Regions from separate parts of the Homo sapiens genome. Here region 1 is linked to region 2. A link means that fine-mapping ties the variant in region 2 to the expression of a gene that starts in the linked region. Tissue or cell type: testis. Region 2 holds a variant in brackets; the other region holds the start of a gene. All regions are shown on one strand. Distances are between the middles of the regions.

Region 1 (8,452 bases), 35 kb after region 2:
GGCTTGGTGTAATAAATATTTAAGCATTGATTGTTTTGAGATTGTTGGCTCTTTTTTTTTTTACCATTCTGGAAACTAATTATTTTGAGCCTTGTCAGTATGTTCCACACATCCATGTTTATATCAATTTGCATCATCCTACAGTGCTTCTTCATTGGGATGGTCTTGGTATTGGGAATGTGCCCATTCTTCACTGGGGGACAGCCCCTAGCATGGCAGACATTAGTACTTCGGCTTTTTCCACCAAATGCCAGTAACACCCCAAATCATTGAGGGCACCACAAATCATAAATTACAGAGAAGTGAGAGTTGAAAATTGCCAGGACTGAACATCACAAGAGACCCTAGGGGAAGCAAACGCCTGGCAGAATTGGTCTCCCACCTTTCTACTGCACATCCTTCCTCTTCCTCTTTGTCCTTTGTCCTTTGGAGTCCTTGTGATGAAACTGATCAAGTCCAGAGCTGCACTATATATCAATGGGAAAAGACTTCCAGTGCAACAGGAAGGGTGTAGGACACACTGTTTAGAATTTCTGTTTGTTTTTATATGTAACATGATATCTCCAGGTTCCAAATCTATACATCTGTCTGACAATTATTGCATGTACCTAGCATAGTGCTAAGAACTAGAATGCTTTGTTTTGTTTCATCCTTACAACAGTTTTGCTCAACTTAAAACAGCTTTCACATTCCCATTTTATAGATGAAGAAACCAAGGCTTTAAAAAGGTACAAAACTTGGCCGGGCGCAGTGGCTCACCCATGTAATCCCAGCACTCTGGGAGGCTGAGGCGGGCAGATCACTTGAGGTCAGGAGTTTGAGATCAGCCTGGGCAACATGGTCAAACCCTGTCTCTACTAAAAATACAAAAATTAGTCGGGCGTGGTGGCCGGCGTCTGTAGTCCCAGCTGGTTGGGGTGGCTGGGGTGGAAGGATCGCTTGAACCCGGGAGGTGGAGGTTGCAGTGAGCCGAGATTGTGCCACTGCACTCCAGCCTGGGTGACAGAGCAAGACTCCGTCTCAAAAAAAAAAAAAAAAAAAAAAGATACAAACTTGTCCATAGTAAACTGTCTCCAGTGGGGGAGGGAATGGGGAAGAGGGGATTAGAAAAGGAAGTTTCAATTCAAAGCATGTGCAAACCTCATCTCCCAGGGCATACCAAGCAGCATCATTAATATCTGACCTGTCACTACCATCTGGAGTGCCAGCTCATTTCAGACCAATGAGGGAAAAAGCCTTTGCAGGCAGTTTTCTAAGTGGCACTGGGAAAGGAGTGAATTGGCTGCTTCATTAATAAAGCAGGATAGAATGTGGGCACCAGTGCCAGCCAGACAGTCTGCTGCTGCCTGGAGAATTTGGCTGCAGCATTGTTTCCAGACTCTCGGCAAAAAAAGTCAAGACCGGATATATGGGGAGAGGAAGGAAGGGAGGAAATTGGCTGGTTGGTCGGAAGGAACCGGATGCGACGGCTTCCGGGCCTCCAGGATGGGAAAAAAAGGTTAATGATTCATCCACACCATTCATTCATGCATGCATTCATTTCATGATACTTATTAAGCATCTACCACGTGCCACATTTTCTTCTAGATGCTGAAGATACAGGAACCAACAAATATTCCTGCCCTTATGGAGCTTATATTCTAATGAGAGGGACACAGACTGTAAACATACAAATAATTAAAATACTATATCAGATGGAGAGAAGTAATTTGGTCAAAAGGTAGCAGGGAAGGAAGAACAGAGCTTGCGCGGGGTGGGTGGATGGGGGTCCTGATTTTAAACAGTAATCACAGAAGGCCTCATGAAGTGACATTTGAGTAAAGATTTTGTAAAGATACCGTGCTGGTCACTGTTCTAAGCACTTTACAATTATTTATGTCATGAATGCTCCCAACAACCCCAAGAAACATGGCTATGATTATTCTGGTTTTACAAAGAGACTGAGGTTCAGAGATGCAGTGACTTCAGAGATCACACAGCTAGAAAGTGGGAGAATTGGGATTTGAATACAGACTTGTCTGAACTTCAGCGGCTGCACGCTTTCATATCGGTGCAGACGCTGTCCACAAACCGGGTTTGGGAAAGGGCAAGTTACGGGTGCAAATGGAGCCTTGCAGGTGCCCACGAATCGAATATGGTGCCACCACCCGTGGGCAAGTGTGGGCGGACTTGATGGGGGACGGGTGGCTAGCGATTTTCACAGCGCTGAATCAGGGCTCTGCGTCTGTGGCCGGGGAGTTCCGTGGCCCAGCTGCAGGCGAGGTGAGCCGGTGGGGGAGGGAGCGCAACTGCAAGGGTTGTCCCGGGACAGTGCCGGTACGAACCTCACCCCGCCGCCACCCCCGGGCCAGCTGCTGCAGTCAATAAGGCGAGGGCCTAGCAGGCGCTCGTCGCCCTCCTGGTGGGGTTCGCTCGGGTGTTCCTACCAGGGTTGAAGAGGGCTAGGGAGCTGAGCTCCGGAAGGGCGGACTAGAGGCCCCAGCGGCCACTCCTAGAGAGGCGGGCAGCTCGGGAGGTCTGAGCGCAGAGGGCGGGCGGAGCCGCACGTTGCGTGGAATCCCCTAGTTCATTCCCGGGAGAGCCCCGGGCGCAGGACAGAGCGGTGGAGGGGCGCCTGGGAGCTCTGGGGGACACCAAGAGAAGAGAGGTTAGGGCCAGTGCGCAGCAAACGGGGAGGAACTACGACGCGCTGGGTAGAAAGAGTAAGAGAGGCGCACCCACTTTGCTGGTGAGGGGGGCACACGGGGAGCCTAAGAAAGGCCTAAAGAGGTAGTGGGTGTGAGCCAGCCTCGGGCGCGTTAAAAAGGGGGCGCCGGAGGGAGGCAAGGAGAGGAAGTTGGGTGTAGGAAGAAGCGAGAGGAAACTGTTGCCTGGACAGAGCGTGCCGTGCCAAAGCGCGGAAACGGGATCAAGGAGGGGGCATCAGGAATCGCCTGGGGACCCCCCGGAGAGTGGCGGAAGCGGTGCCCTTGGGCGCAGCAAAGAGAGAAGGGAGCACAGGCTGAGATAGAGACAGTCCTGGGCGCTGGAGAGCAGGAGCCCCCGGAGCGGCAGGGAAAGGAACGTAGAGCCTGCATGCTCGGGGTATGAGCTTACTGCGCTCGCTAGGGTGGCGCGCACTGGGGCTCTAGAAAAGAGGGTTGAGAAGCCCCGGGCAAGTGCCTAGGAAGGTCAGAGGAGTCAGCAAAGTCCACGGAAGAACTTCCCCGGGTTGGAGAGGAAACGCACCCTGGGAGCTGGAAAGAAGAGGAAAGCTAGCCTGGGGGAAGCTTGATCAGGGCTCTGAGTACCACGAGGAGTGCAGAGGAGGTGCTGATGATTGCGGGGAGAGCTCTGAGAGCCCGAGAAAGGTGAGGAGGAGGTGCGAGGACAAAGAACACCTAGCGCGGGCCGGGCCGTGAGGAAGGGAGCCGCAGAGAGCGCGCGGACTCCCCTGCAGGGGCTCAAAGCCGCCCGGGTCTCTCCTCCCAGGCTGCCTCTGGCCGTGATTCACTCACCATGATGGAAAAGACCAAAGCCACGATGTTGATGGGGTACGCAGGGCAAAAACACGAGACGATGGTGAGCCACAGGTAGTTCTTGGGCATGGGCACGTCCTCCTCGGTCTTGTCATCTTCAGTGTTGGCCTCGGGACTGCTGTCCAAAGCCCTCTTGAAGTCCGGGCTAGGGGCGTACTGAGACATGGGCGAGGCCGGCGGCGCCGGGAGGGCGGAGGAGCGCACGGTCTGTGTGGTCTGGGGCTCTGGCCGCCGGCTTGTGGCGAGGCTCTGAAAAGCCAGCGGCTCGGGGCTCAAGGGAGACGTGACCTCACCCCTTCTGCGTCCTCTGCCAGCACCCGCCCGGGCTCAGGGACCCTGGCCAAGAGCCTCCCCACAAGGAGGAAGGGAGGGAGAAAAGGAGTGAGGGGAGGCGGGGAGGACAGCGGGAGCGTCAGCCTGAGGAACAGGGAACAGGCAGATGAAGGCACCCCACTCCCTGAGATCGTCGGAGGGACGCACAGACTCACACTGAGAAGTCTGGAATAAAAGGAGGCTCAGGGAAGGAGGACGCAAAGGCCCATTAAGTTCCAAATTGGCCAGCCCGTGGGCTGAAGATGACCAGCTCATTTTTAAAAGCCACTTAATTCTAATACATTTAGATGGGACAGGACCAACCCTATCCAGTTGGCAACAGACTCACTACTTCCTCTTGACTTCAACGTTTTACCTTAACTGTCTGGTGCCTGGGCATTTGATTTGTCTCCTGTGCCTCAGACCTTGAACACTGAGCCCCAGGAATTTCTCCTCCCCCCGACCCCCTCCCCCAGGTGGGGTGGGAACCAGGTGCCCAGCTTTGGCCTCAAAGCTTTCCACATTCTACTTGGGGCTCAAGAGACTGGAGTCCAGTATAGTCAGTCAGTGGGCACTGCCCGGTCCATGCCCGTCCAGGTGCCCTCCCCAGTGTGGAAACAAGGAATTCTTCTTTCCACTTTTCCACCTGCAGGACCCCTGGGGAGAAATGCAGGTAGATCAGGCTGGCCTAGGCAACCTAGATGGATGAGTGGGCTGGGAAGAAGAACAAGGTATCCACTTTGGGGACTAGTGTGAGAAAAGCAATTGTATCAGTGTCTAAGCTATTCATGAGAGGGCCGTATGGACCAGAACTGAAGCTTGAATCCAGACAGAACTAGGAAATTGTCACTTCAGGAAAGCCCCTTCATCTTGCTAAGCCCCTATTTCTCCATCTGAAAAAGGGGAAATAATAGTCCCTGCCTCATAAAGTCGTAGTGACTCTTCTATGAGATGGTACATTATCCAGGTCAATCCATGTGCTCAATAAATATTAGCTATTATTAGCATACTATTTCTCCTTATATTCTGAAACATATAGTGCATTATACAGTATCCTAAACTTGATATCCCTTGCTAATATTTCACCAAAAATCCAGGTATTCTGAGCTGCAGGACCACAAAGAAATGAAAATAATTTGATCATGCAGTGTCAAAAGCAATTGCTCACATCATCATACTTGAAACTATTAATCATCTTCTTGGCTTTCTCAGAATATAAGCTGATTGCCTGGGAGATTCTCACTTATCTCATGAGCCATACTTATTTTGTTATCTGCCTCCCTCATTGGACTGCACACTCCCCGAGAGAAGGGGTCATCTGGCTCATCTTTGTGTCAGCATCTGGCACAGTTCCTGGTACAAGGGAGGTGCTTAGTATAGCTTGCTGGGTGAACACACAAAGATGAAATAGTACATTCTCCGCCATGCCTTCTTTCTCATTTTGATGGATTAATAAAATGGGAGTAACTAAAAGATTAGATTCATCTACTGAATTCTCAACCAAGTCTTTGCATTGGCTGTTCCCTCTGCCTCGGCTGTTTTTCCCTGGCTGTCACATGGCTCCTCCTTCTTTTTTTTTTTACTTTGAGTTGGAGTCTCACTCTGTCACCCAGGCTGGAGTGCAGTGGTGTGATCTCGGCTCACTGCAACCTCCACCTCCTGGGTTCAAGCAATTCTCTGCCTCAGCCTCCCGAGTAGCTGGGATTACAGGTGTCTGCCACCACGCCCAGCTAATTTTTGTATTTTTAGTAGACACAGGGTTTCACCATCTTGGCCAGGCTGGTCTTGAACTCCTGACCTCATGATCCACCCGCTTTGGCCTCCCAAAGTGCTGGGAGGCTCCTCCTTCTTATTCCTCAGGTGACAGGTCAAGTCACTTCCTCAAAGAGAGGTCTTCTTGTAGATTATCTAGTGTAGGTCTCCATCCTTATTTTATTCTTGCCAGTTTATTATTTTTTGTGTGTGTAGCGTGTCACAATTGTAATTTATTTCTTTACTTGTTCACTGTTTGTTCTATCTCTAGACTATAGCCTGTCCAACCTGTTCAGAACTATATTTCCAGCACTTAAGAATTGTCCTGGTGCATAGTAGGAATGCAAGAAATGTTTCTTGAATGAATTGACCAAAATTACCTGGATGTATTGAAAAAAATGATTTTCAGGTTTTGATCAAGACCTACTTGGATTAGAATTTCTCAGGTAGCACCCCAGAAATCTGTACTTTTTTTTTTTTTTTTTTTGAGATGGAGTCTCACTCTGTCACCCAGGCTGGAGTGCAGTGGTGCGATCTCGGCTCACTGCAAGCTCTGCCTCCCAGGTTCATGCCATTCTCCTGCCTCAGTCTCCCGAGTAGCTGGGACTACAGGCACCCACCACCACGCCTGGCTAATTTTTTTGTATTTTTAGTAGAGACGGGGTTTCACCGTGTTAGCCAGGATGGTCTCCATCACCTGCCCCTGTGATCTGCCTGCCTCGGCCTCCCAAAGTGCTGGGATTATAGGCATGAGCCATCACGCCTGGCCAGAAATCTGTACTTTTAATGCCTGAGAAAACTGTATTTTTAGAATACTCCCTGGTGATTCTGATGCAACTGAGCAATTTCTCAGATCCCAGTTCTGTCTCTAATTCTTAGGACACAGTCCAGGATCTTTAGCTTGGAAATCCTCTCAGGTGTCCCAAACTCAATGTGTCAAAGAGGAACTCATTGTCTTCCCTAAGAACTTGCTTCTCAAGGCTTGGTCTTTGGTCAATGAACACTGCTCACTTTTCCAATCTCTTCTGCCAAGTATCTCCTTTCTTATTTATTTATTTATTTACTATTTATTTTTTAGAGACAGCCTTGCTCTGTCACCCAGGCTGGAGTGCAGTTGTGCAATCATAGCTCTCTGCAACGTCGAGCTCCTGGCCTCAAGCGATCCTCCCGCCTCAGCCTCCCAAAGTGCTGGGATTACAGGCATGCACCACCATGCCCAGAATTCTCTCCTTTCTTACTGCACTTCAATTACATAGACATTTTTCCCCGTTTCTCTAACATACCTAACCTTTTCCCACCCCAAAGTCTCTGTACCTACTGTTCTTTCCTCCTGGAATGCTTCCTCTCCTCTCTAACTATTGGTTCCTTCTCATCTTCCAGGACCCACTAACTCACATGTTACCGCCTGACAGAGGCCTTCCCTGACCATCATATCTAAAGTGGACCCCATCCTCTTATTCTCCATCCCATTACCTTGTTTATTTTCTATGTCAGACATGGTCTTTTTTATTTATTTGTCTTCTTATTTACTGTCTTTCCCACTAGAAAGGAAGCTCCACAAGGGCAGATATTTTTTTCCATTTTGTTTGCTGTGTTATCCCAAACACCCAGAACTGTGCCTGGCCATTAGCAGGTGCTCAACAGATAATTCATTGAATGAATAAATTGTGAATTTAGTCCTCCAAGTTAGGTACTTGGCAGCATTCTTCTTCTCTTTCCTTCAGCCTCTCCATGAATTATTCATCAAACTATTGATTCATTCTCAAATGTGACTCTTCATTCCATGTCTTCTTTTTCCCATCCTCCTGGGCTTCCAATTCTGGCTCTTATTCACAATGAAAAAGTGCTCTCTGAACCATATTTGTGATCTGAGCCTAATTTATTTTAAAAATATTTGTATTTTTATTTTTCCCCCTTCTTTTCACAGGTGTTGATGAGGCTAGTTAATTTCGTTGGTGCCAGTAGCCCAAGGTTTGGGTACCAAATGAAATTTTGCTTTTCAAAGTTTTGAACTATATTGTTCACTGTAACCCACTAGTGTCATCTAGGGAAAGCCAAAAGAAGGGATTGTTGACTCATTGTGGACTGTTTCTTCTGCCAGGAAAACAACTGCTTAACATGAGCCGAGCACTCTAGAATCGCCAAACATTGACCGAGCACCACTGTTGCACTAAGTGCATTCCCTGTGTGTATCATCTCATTTAATTCCTACAGCAAATTTTCTGAGGGAGGTGATGAGGTTTTCTTTTTCCCAAATGAGGAAACCTAGGAACAGATAGGTAAAGGGACTTGTGTAAAGTCTTCTGGCTAAGAGGAGGTGCCAGAATTTGAACTCGGTCTGAGATATTTGTTCAGCTGGCAGGTCCAGGCCAGAAAGTTAAATGGATATCTCTGAAGTTCATTGGAGTTATTATGCTCTGCTCAGGGAAGATGGATTAATAGCTTGTTGACTGGTCTAAGATGTAGCAGTGAAATTGCCATCACTTGAAACTTTTCAAATTAAATTGAAAAGAAAGTGCCTACACCAGAAAATGTAATGTATATGGTGCTGATTCTTGAGGGATGCATTAGATCACTCAGTGGGGGTTTCCAGCTCTAATTTCCTGAGCTTCACTAATTTTCTCTTGAGAGGTCAGTTTATTGTTCTTGGATGAACCCTACTGGCTGATTGCTTAATAATGTGGCAATACCTACCCTCTTTCAAATGAGACAGAAGAGAAAGCAACTTTCTAATAGCCAGCCTAGGAGAGGGGAAAGGCTTACTGTAGCTTTCTGGATTCTAGTGTAGCAACTTGCCTTTTTGATCTTTGAAACAAGTTTATTTCCAAATGTAAAAGTAATACGTATTCATTTAAGAAAATTGAGAAAAT
Region 2 (8,000 bases):
CTGCTTCCTTTAAACTGTGCTTTTGAAATTACCATGGTCCCCACCACTTCCTATTGTCCTATAACCAGGCTACCTCATGTATGTCCTTCCCCTGACCCCTGTACTCCTTTGATTTTGTGAACCTTAGCCCTGACTCATCACACATTTCTGTAGGATGAAACCTCACCATACCATTCCCCCGTAAATCAATCCTGGAGTTAGCCACAAAGCAAGTACCACTTACTGGCCTTTGTTACTGGGTGTACTAGCAGGAACATATTGACTTAGCGGCAGTGCAGAGTTTGGCTAAGAACACAGCCTGAAGAGCGACACTATCCTGGTTTTAAATCCTACCTTTTCCACTAACTAGCTGTGAGGCTTTGGGCAAGTCACTTTACCTCTCTGAGTCTCGGTTTCCTCATCTACAAAATAGGGATAATAATACCTATCTACCTCTTTGGGTTGCTGTGAAGACTCAATGAGGATTAATTAATGTTAAGAGCTTAGAACAGTACCTGGCATATGTCAAGGTCTATGTTAGTGTCAGCTGCTATTATTATAACCCACTTAGCTCAAACACTAATCTAGGCAGTATGCATTTTCCCAAGTTCCCAGGAGTCAAGCCAAGGCTTGGTCTCATTCCCTTAGAACATTGTCCTTTGTTTGGCTCATAAATATAAAGCCTTGAATTCTATTTAATGGCATCTTGAATTCTGAGGTCCTTTCCCAGTAACATTGATAATATTAGTAATAATGGGATTAATAAATGGTTTACATTTTTGTGCACCCACTAAAGAACAGAGACACCAACCTACACATTCTGTGGGTCATCCAGTTAACCTTTACAATAGCTTTATGAAATGGGTACTACTATTATTCTCATTTTACAGGTGAGGAAACTGAGGTTCAGGAATGTTAAACAATTGGCTGAAGGTCTCACAGTGAATAAGTGGTGACTGGGACCTGGGTCCAGGCAGTCTGGTGCCAAAACTGCACCATTAAACCCACACTCTGTGGCTCCCCTGCTCACAAGTTCACAAGCACCTTACACCTTCTCTTAAGAATATAGTCAGGTTCATTCACGTGTATTCTCCAACCATCTTCCTCTTCATGGGCCAACATCAAATTTGCCATCCTGCAGGCAAGAAACCTTGAGTTTCCTTTCATGTTTGAGTGTCCTTTTCTCTTTTATTTGGCCAAAGCCATTTAATTTTCTTTTGTGACACTTCTGTTTTGACATCTTCCCCTCTACCCAGCTGCCACTGGTTGTTCCTGGGTCTGCCTTCTCTGATAGGAAGTGGATCTACCATGACATCTGCTACTGTCTTGGTTGCCAAGGTTGGGTTGGCTGATCTGGAATGTCAAAAGAGGTCTCCTTCCTCCCTCACCCATCTGGGTGAGCCTCCTTTGTCAACCAAGAGAAAGAGGTTGACCTTCTCAGTTTGATGGGTGTAGGACTTTGGTCAAGGGTATAGGAGTAGCCATGCTGCTGTGGCAGAAAAGTGAAAGAATTTCTCAGCATTCTTATCTGTCTTACCAGAAATTACACAGCAAGACAGAGATGGATCTGGACTTGTCATTTCTGGGTCTGAGTTGCCTATCACATGACCTTGCTGTCTGTCAAACCTCTGACGGAAAGTGTTATTGAGTCTAGCAGATGGAGCCCATCTGAGCTGGTTAGAGAAATCAGAATAAATTTGTCCCAGTCCAGAGGGACAACACATCAGCAGCATCCATCTCTTCATGAGATGAGAGCTCCTTGTCAATACCAAAAATATGTAGTGACCTTTCTGCCCTTAAACTAAAACAGTTATGCTAGTTTGATGCAAGTAGGAGTTTATTTAGCAGATGATGTGCTAGGGCAGAGCAAATAGCAATCCTAAATATCCCATTTATTCTCCCACATTTCCTACCCTCTTACAGTTAGGTGGGATTACGTGACTGATTTCAGTCAATGTAAGCCTAAGCGACATTTGTCGCTAGGCAGTAAAAAGCCCATGTGGGATTCTCCAGTCTTCCTCTCCCCCGCCTTTGCCTGAGGACACCTCATGTTCTAGATCTGAAGTTGGCAAACTACAGCCCACAGACAGATGCCTGTTGTTGTAAATAAAGTTTTATTGGAACACAGCCACGCCTGTTCATTTCTATATTGTCTATGGCTGCTTTTGTGCTAAAATGGCAGAGCTAAGTAGCTGTGCCAGAGACCATGATCGGGACCATATGGCCTGCAAGGCTTAAAAGATTTACTATCTGGCCCTTTACAGACAAAGTTTGTTGACTTCTGTCCTAGATAGAGCAGCTACAAGATGGTGCAGCTTTGTATAGCGTGGGACCCTGCATGACTGTGTGGAGGAGAGACCTTCCACTGACCTATATGATCCATGTAATGGATCCATATTGTTGACCTGATCCAAAGAAGCATCCAAACCTTCTTTTTTTATAAATCACTCAGTCTGAGGTATTTCTTTATAGCAATGCAGAATGGACTAACACACTACTTTTGTGCTACAAAGACTGAGTTGAGTAGTTGGGACTATGTCCCTCTGTCCAGAGGATGTAGGGCCTGTAAGGCCAGAAATATTAACTATTTGGTCATTTACCAAAGGAGTTCACCCACTCCCGCACTAGAAGATCCACACTGTTGATATGTCCCTCTGGACTGGGACAAATTTATTCTGAGAAGAAAACATGAAAACCCTTTGGCTTGGGGTTGTTACTGGAGCATAACCTAATCTACCCTAACAGATTCCAACGGGCGTTCGAGAAAGGGCGTTTGACATGGGGAGGGATTCAAAAAGCCTACTTACTTCCTTGTGAAGTGAACTGCACAAGAAATGCCGATGATGAGAAGGCCAATGATGATGGAGGCGATGGCTACCCACTTAGCATTCCGCCCAAGCCGCCTGGCTCCTTCGTAGTCTCCATCGTTGTAGCTGTTCAGAGACTGGGGGACAGAAGGGAAGAGCTGGTGATGACAGATAACCCACAGGGAAAGGGATGGAGGTCCTCAGGCTGTCCTGATGAAAAGGTTCCAAGAGCTCTCTGGTGACTTTGCTCATCTCACTGACAGCCTGCTAAGCAAACAACACAGTCATCCCCTCCTCCAGGAATCCTTCCCTAAACTCTAAGGATGAGTTAACTGCCCCCTCTGTATTTCCTGATGACTTTTGTCTTAGCATTTACGTAACAAGATTTTGTCTCTCCCACCAGCATGTAAGTGCAACGTGGGCAGGGGTCATCGTCTGTCTTTTATCTTTTCTTTTTTTTTTTGAGACAGAGTCTCACTCTGTCACCCAGGCTGAAGTGCAGTGGCACAACCTTGGCTCATGGCAACCTCCGCCTCCCGGGTTCAAGCAATTCTCCTGCCTCAGCCTCCCAAGTAGCTGGGATTACAGGTGCCCGCCACCACGCCTGGCTAATTTTTGTATTTTTAGTAGAGACAGGGTTTTACCACATTGGCCAGGCTGGTCTCAAACTCCTGACCTCAAGTAATCCATCCACCTTGGTCTCCCAGAGTGCTGGGATTACAGGCATGAGCCACCACGCCCGGCCTTCTGTCTTGTTCGGCATACCAGTGTCCAGTGCAATACTTGCCATGTAGAAGATGCTGGATAAGTATTTGTAGCATAAAAACACAAATGAGTATGTCTGTCTTGTTCACTAGAATGGGATTTGCAAATCATGGCCCATGGGCCAAATCCAGCCTGCTGCCTGTTTTTGTAAATAAAGCTTATTTGGAACATAGTCACACTCATTTGTTTACTACTGTCTGTGGCTATTTGATATAGTTTTGTTGTAGGGCAGGTGAGCCCCAGAACTGGGGCCTAGCCTGGGAAGTTTTTTGACCTCTCTCAGGAAAGAATTTAAGAGTGAGCTGGTGGGCCGGGCGTGGTGGCTCATGCCTGTAATCCCAGCACTTTGGGAGGATGAGATGGGCAGATCACGAGGTCAGGAGATCAAGACCATCCTGGCTAACACAGTGAAACCCCGTCTCTACTAAAAATAAAAAAAAATTAGCCGGGCGTGGTGGCGGGCGCCTATAGTCCCAGCTACTTGGGAGGCTGAGGCAAGAGAATGGCGTGAATCTGGGAGGCGGAGCTTGCAGTGAGCCAAGATCGTGCCACTGCACTCCAGCCTGGGCGACTGAGCAAGACTCCATCTCAAAAAAAAAAAAAAAAAAAAAAAAAGAGTGAGCTGGTGGTAGAAGAAAGCAGCTTTAGGCCGGGCGTGCTGGCTCACGCCTGTAATCCCAGCACTTTGGGAGGTCGAGGCAGGTGGATCACCTGAGGTCAGGAGTTCAAGACCATCCTGGCCAACATGGTAAAACTCTGTCTCTACTGAAAATACAAAAAATTAGCCGGGTGTGATGGCAGGCACCTGTAATCCCAGCTACTCGGGAAGCTGAGGCAGGAGAATTGCTTGAACCTGGGAGGCAGAGGTTGCAGTGAGCTGAGATTTTTGCCATTGCACTCCAGCCTGGGCAACAAGAGTGAAACTCCGTCTCAAAAATAAAAATAAAAAAAATAAAATATAAAAGCAGCTTGATTGAGGCAGCAGCATTAGAGCCCTGGTTGAGTTACAGCTCCATGACTGCTCCTGCAGAGCAAGGCTACCCCATAGGTAGCGTGTTGAGAGCAGCAGCTCAGGGCAGTGCTGCAGTCAGATTTATACTCACTTTTAACTATATGTAAATTAAGGG[GC/C]AGGTTGTTAAGAAATTTTTAGATAAGGGGTAGTAACTTCTGGGTCGTGGCCCTGAAAAGGGGTGACAACTTCCGAGTCATTGCCCTGGAAAGGGGTGGTAGCTTCTGGGTGTTGCCATAGCAATGGTAAACTGTCATGGCACTGGTGAGCATGTCTTATGGAGAGGAGCTTTGAGTGCCTTTTCCCTGTTTCAGCCGGTCTTCAATCTGGTCTGGAGTCAAGTCCCGCCTCCTACCTCAGTTTGGATGTTTGTTCCCTCCAAATCTCATGTGTAAACGTGATCCCCAATGTTGGAGGTGGGGCCTGGTGGGAGATGTTGTGGTCAGGGGGCAGACCCTCATTAATGGCTTGGTGCCCTCCCTGCAGTAATGAGTTCTCACTCTGTTAGTTCATGTGTGAGCTGGTTGTTTAAAAGAGCCTGGCATCGTTCTCTTGCTCTCTCTCTCTGTCTTGCCACATGACACAATTGTTTTCCCCTTGCTTTCCACAATGAGTAAAGGCTTCCTGAGTCCTCACCGGAAGAAGATACTGGCGCCATGTTTGTTTAGCCTGCAGAACCATGCACCAAACAAACCTCCTTTCTTTATAAATCATTCAGTGTTAGGTATTTCTTTATAGCAGTGCAAAATGGACTGACACACTACTTTTGTGCTACAAAGACAGAGTTGAGTAGTTGGGACTTTGCCTCTCTGTCCAGAGAATGTAGGGCCTGCAAGGCCAAAAATATTTACTATTTGGTCATTTACCAAAGAAGTTCGCCCACTCCTGCACTAGAAGGTCAATCCATGAGGTCAGGGACCTTGGCTGAATTTTTCATCTCCATGCCCAAGCCACGGCTGTCATTCCCAGCTGTTAAAATGTTGAAATACTCTGTACTCACTGATAAATAGCAGCTACTCTGAAGCTTGTCCGCCTTCCCCAATATCCCAGCCATCCCACTTGCTCCTCTGCCTTTTCCCCGGTTTCCCCATGATCCAGCAACTTAAGGGTTATTGGGCTCAGCAGAGCATCTTCTCTGATTCTGTGCTCATGCCAAACTTGTTAAATATTTAAATATCATCCTTGTTTCTAGTACTTAGAGTGGTGTCTGGCACATTGTTGGAGCTCAAGAAATATGTTATTGACTGAATGAGTGCATGAATATTTCTGTTTCCCCACAGAATGTGAAGTTTTTGAGGGCATCTTTGAGGTCTGCAGGACATAGTACACTGCCAGGCAAAGAAGAGGTATTCAGAGACTGCTTGCTGCTGAAATGAAGGCCAGATACTGTTCTTCTCCCTTTAATAATAAGAGAATCTTGACCAAATGACATCATGTGCCTTCTGATAAAATACCCTAGCAAGGACATTTTACCTGTGTAGTTTTCTTTTCTTTTCTTTTTTCTCTTCTCTTCTCTTCTCTTCTCTTCTCTTCTCTTCTCTTCTCTTCTCTTCTCTTCTCCCTTCTCCCTTCTCCCTTCTCCTCCTCCTCCTCCTCCTCCTCCTTTTTCTTCTTTTTTTTTTTTTTCCGGAGACGGAGTCTTGCTTTGTTTCCCAGGCTGGAGTGCAGTGACGTGATCTCAGCTCACTGCAACCTCTGCCTCCTGGGTTCAAGCCATTCTCCCGCCTCAGCCTCCTGAGTAGCTGAGACTAAAGGTGCCTGCCACCACGCGTGGCAAATTTTTGTATTTTTAGCAGAGAGAGTTTCACCATGTTGGCCAGGCTGGTCTCGAACTTCCAGCCTCAAGCAATCCACTTGCCTCGGCCTCTCAGAGTGTTGGGATTACAGGCATGAGCCACTGCACCTGGCCCTATGTAGTTTTCTCAATATACCTAGCTTTTTTTAATTAAGAGGGAATAATAGGGTAAATTCTATTTGAGCAACTTTCTGCAAGACAAATGGCTTGAAATTATTTTTAAAAAGTCAATGTCGTGAAAGACATGCACACCCACCCACCCAAACACATCAGGAGACTCTCCTAGATTAAAGAAAACTAGATGAACCTAACAATTATATGCAATGTATGATCCTTGATCGTGTCTAGGATTAATAAATAAGTAGCAATTACAGATATCTTCGGGATAATTGGGGAAATTCGAGTGTAGAGTAAATGTTAGATAATAATAATGTTAAATTTCTTGAGTGTGATATTTGTATTTTAGTTACACAAGAGAATTTTTTTTTCTACAGAAGATACAGGCTGCATTATCTAGAACTGATATTATTGCAACCTGTACCTAAATTTTCAGCAAAATAAGAATAAAAATGGCAAAAAATGTTAACTATTGATGCAGTTTGGTGATTATATAGGTCATTGTGTTATTTGCTCACTTATATTTGAGGCCTGCAATTTTTCAAAATAAAAAGAACACACAGTTTTGAAAAATAAGCTCTCTTTATCATCCCATGGCTGAGAGTCACCCAACAGTTGTGCTGTAGCCCAAAGAAGACTGGAAATATTTATTTAAAAGTTATGTATGCGCACACCTGTAGTCTAAGTTTCTCAGGAGGCTGAGGTGGCAGGATCACCTGAGCCCACGAGTTTGAGGCTGCAGTGAGCTATGATCGTGCCACTGCACTCCAGCCTGGATGACAGAGTGAGACCTTGTATCAAAGGAAAAAAAAAAAAAAAGAAGAAGTTATGTACAGAAGGACTCCGTCAGTGCTGTGAAATTACAGATTTCACTGAGAACCTCTTCCTTGATTCTGAAATCACAGCACTTCAGTAATAATTGCTCCTCTTCCTGGACTATTAAGGGGGATTAGACATATGCAGACAATTACAAGCCAGAGAAATACCCAGTATACCACAGAGCTTTCTGCTTCCGGAACCTTCCATTAATTCTTGGATCTGGGCCACCTTAGTCAGCAACAGGTGGGAAGACTCAACAATGAAGAGGAATTGCTTTTAGGCCTCTTGTGTGAATGAGAGAGCGAGAACTAAAAACAATGTTAGGGACTTCCAGCAAGGTGAGTTCCTGAATTCTAAGTCACGAATTCTGGAGTTCTCCAGCTTGGGTGTTCATTAGAACCACCTGGGTAGTAAAAAAAAAATACAGAGAACCAGGCTCTATCATGGAGAGATTCTGATTTAACTGATGTGGGGACCAGGTGGCACATGTTTTTTGTGTGTGATTTTTTTGTTGTGGTAAAATATGCCTACAATTTAATCTTTTAATCATTTTTAAGTATACTGTTTAGTGGCATTATGTACATTCGCATTGCTGTGCAACCATGACCCACCATCTATCTCTGGAATTTTCATCTTCCCCAATGGAAACTCCATACCTGTAAAATACTCACTCCCATTCATCCTCTCCCCAGCCCCTGACAACCACAAT

The links.
Region 1: it holds the start of TMEM233, and the variant in region 2 is fine-mapped to the expression of TMEM233 in testis (GTEx, PIP 0.91).

Annotation. Positions count from the first base shown.
Region 1 is chr12:119,589,080-119,597,531 of GRCh38, reverse strand. It overlaps TMEM233 (transmembrane protein 233), which reads right to left and starts at 3,758. Exons shown (of 3, transcript NM_001136534.3): 1 at 3,498-3,758. The coding sequence starts at 3,683. All of the region lies in intron 1 of PRKAB1-AS1 (PRKAB1, TMEM233 and CCDC60 antisense RNA 1), which reads left to right. RefSeq lists an enhancer at 3,197-3,770.
Region 2 is chr12:119,624,659-119,632,658 of GRCh38, reverse strand. It overlaps TMEM233 (transmembrane protein 233), which reads right to left. Exons shown (of 3, transcript NM_001136534.3): 2 at 2,787-2,923. All of the region lies in intron 1 of PRKAB1-AS1 (PRKAB1, TMEM233 and CCDC60 antisense RNA 1), which reads left to right. It also overlaps the pseudogene RN7SKP197. Among named protein-coding and RNA genes, the nearest start is that of TMEM233, 35 kb to the right of the region's middle. The variant GC/C (reference allele first, on the strand shown) is at 4,679.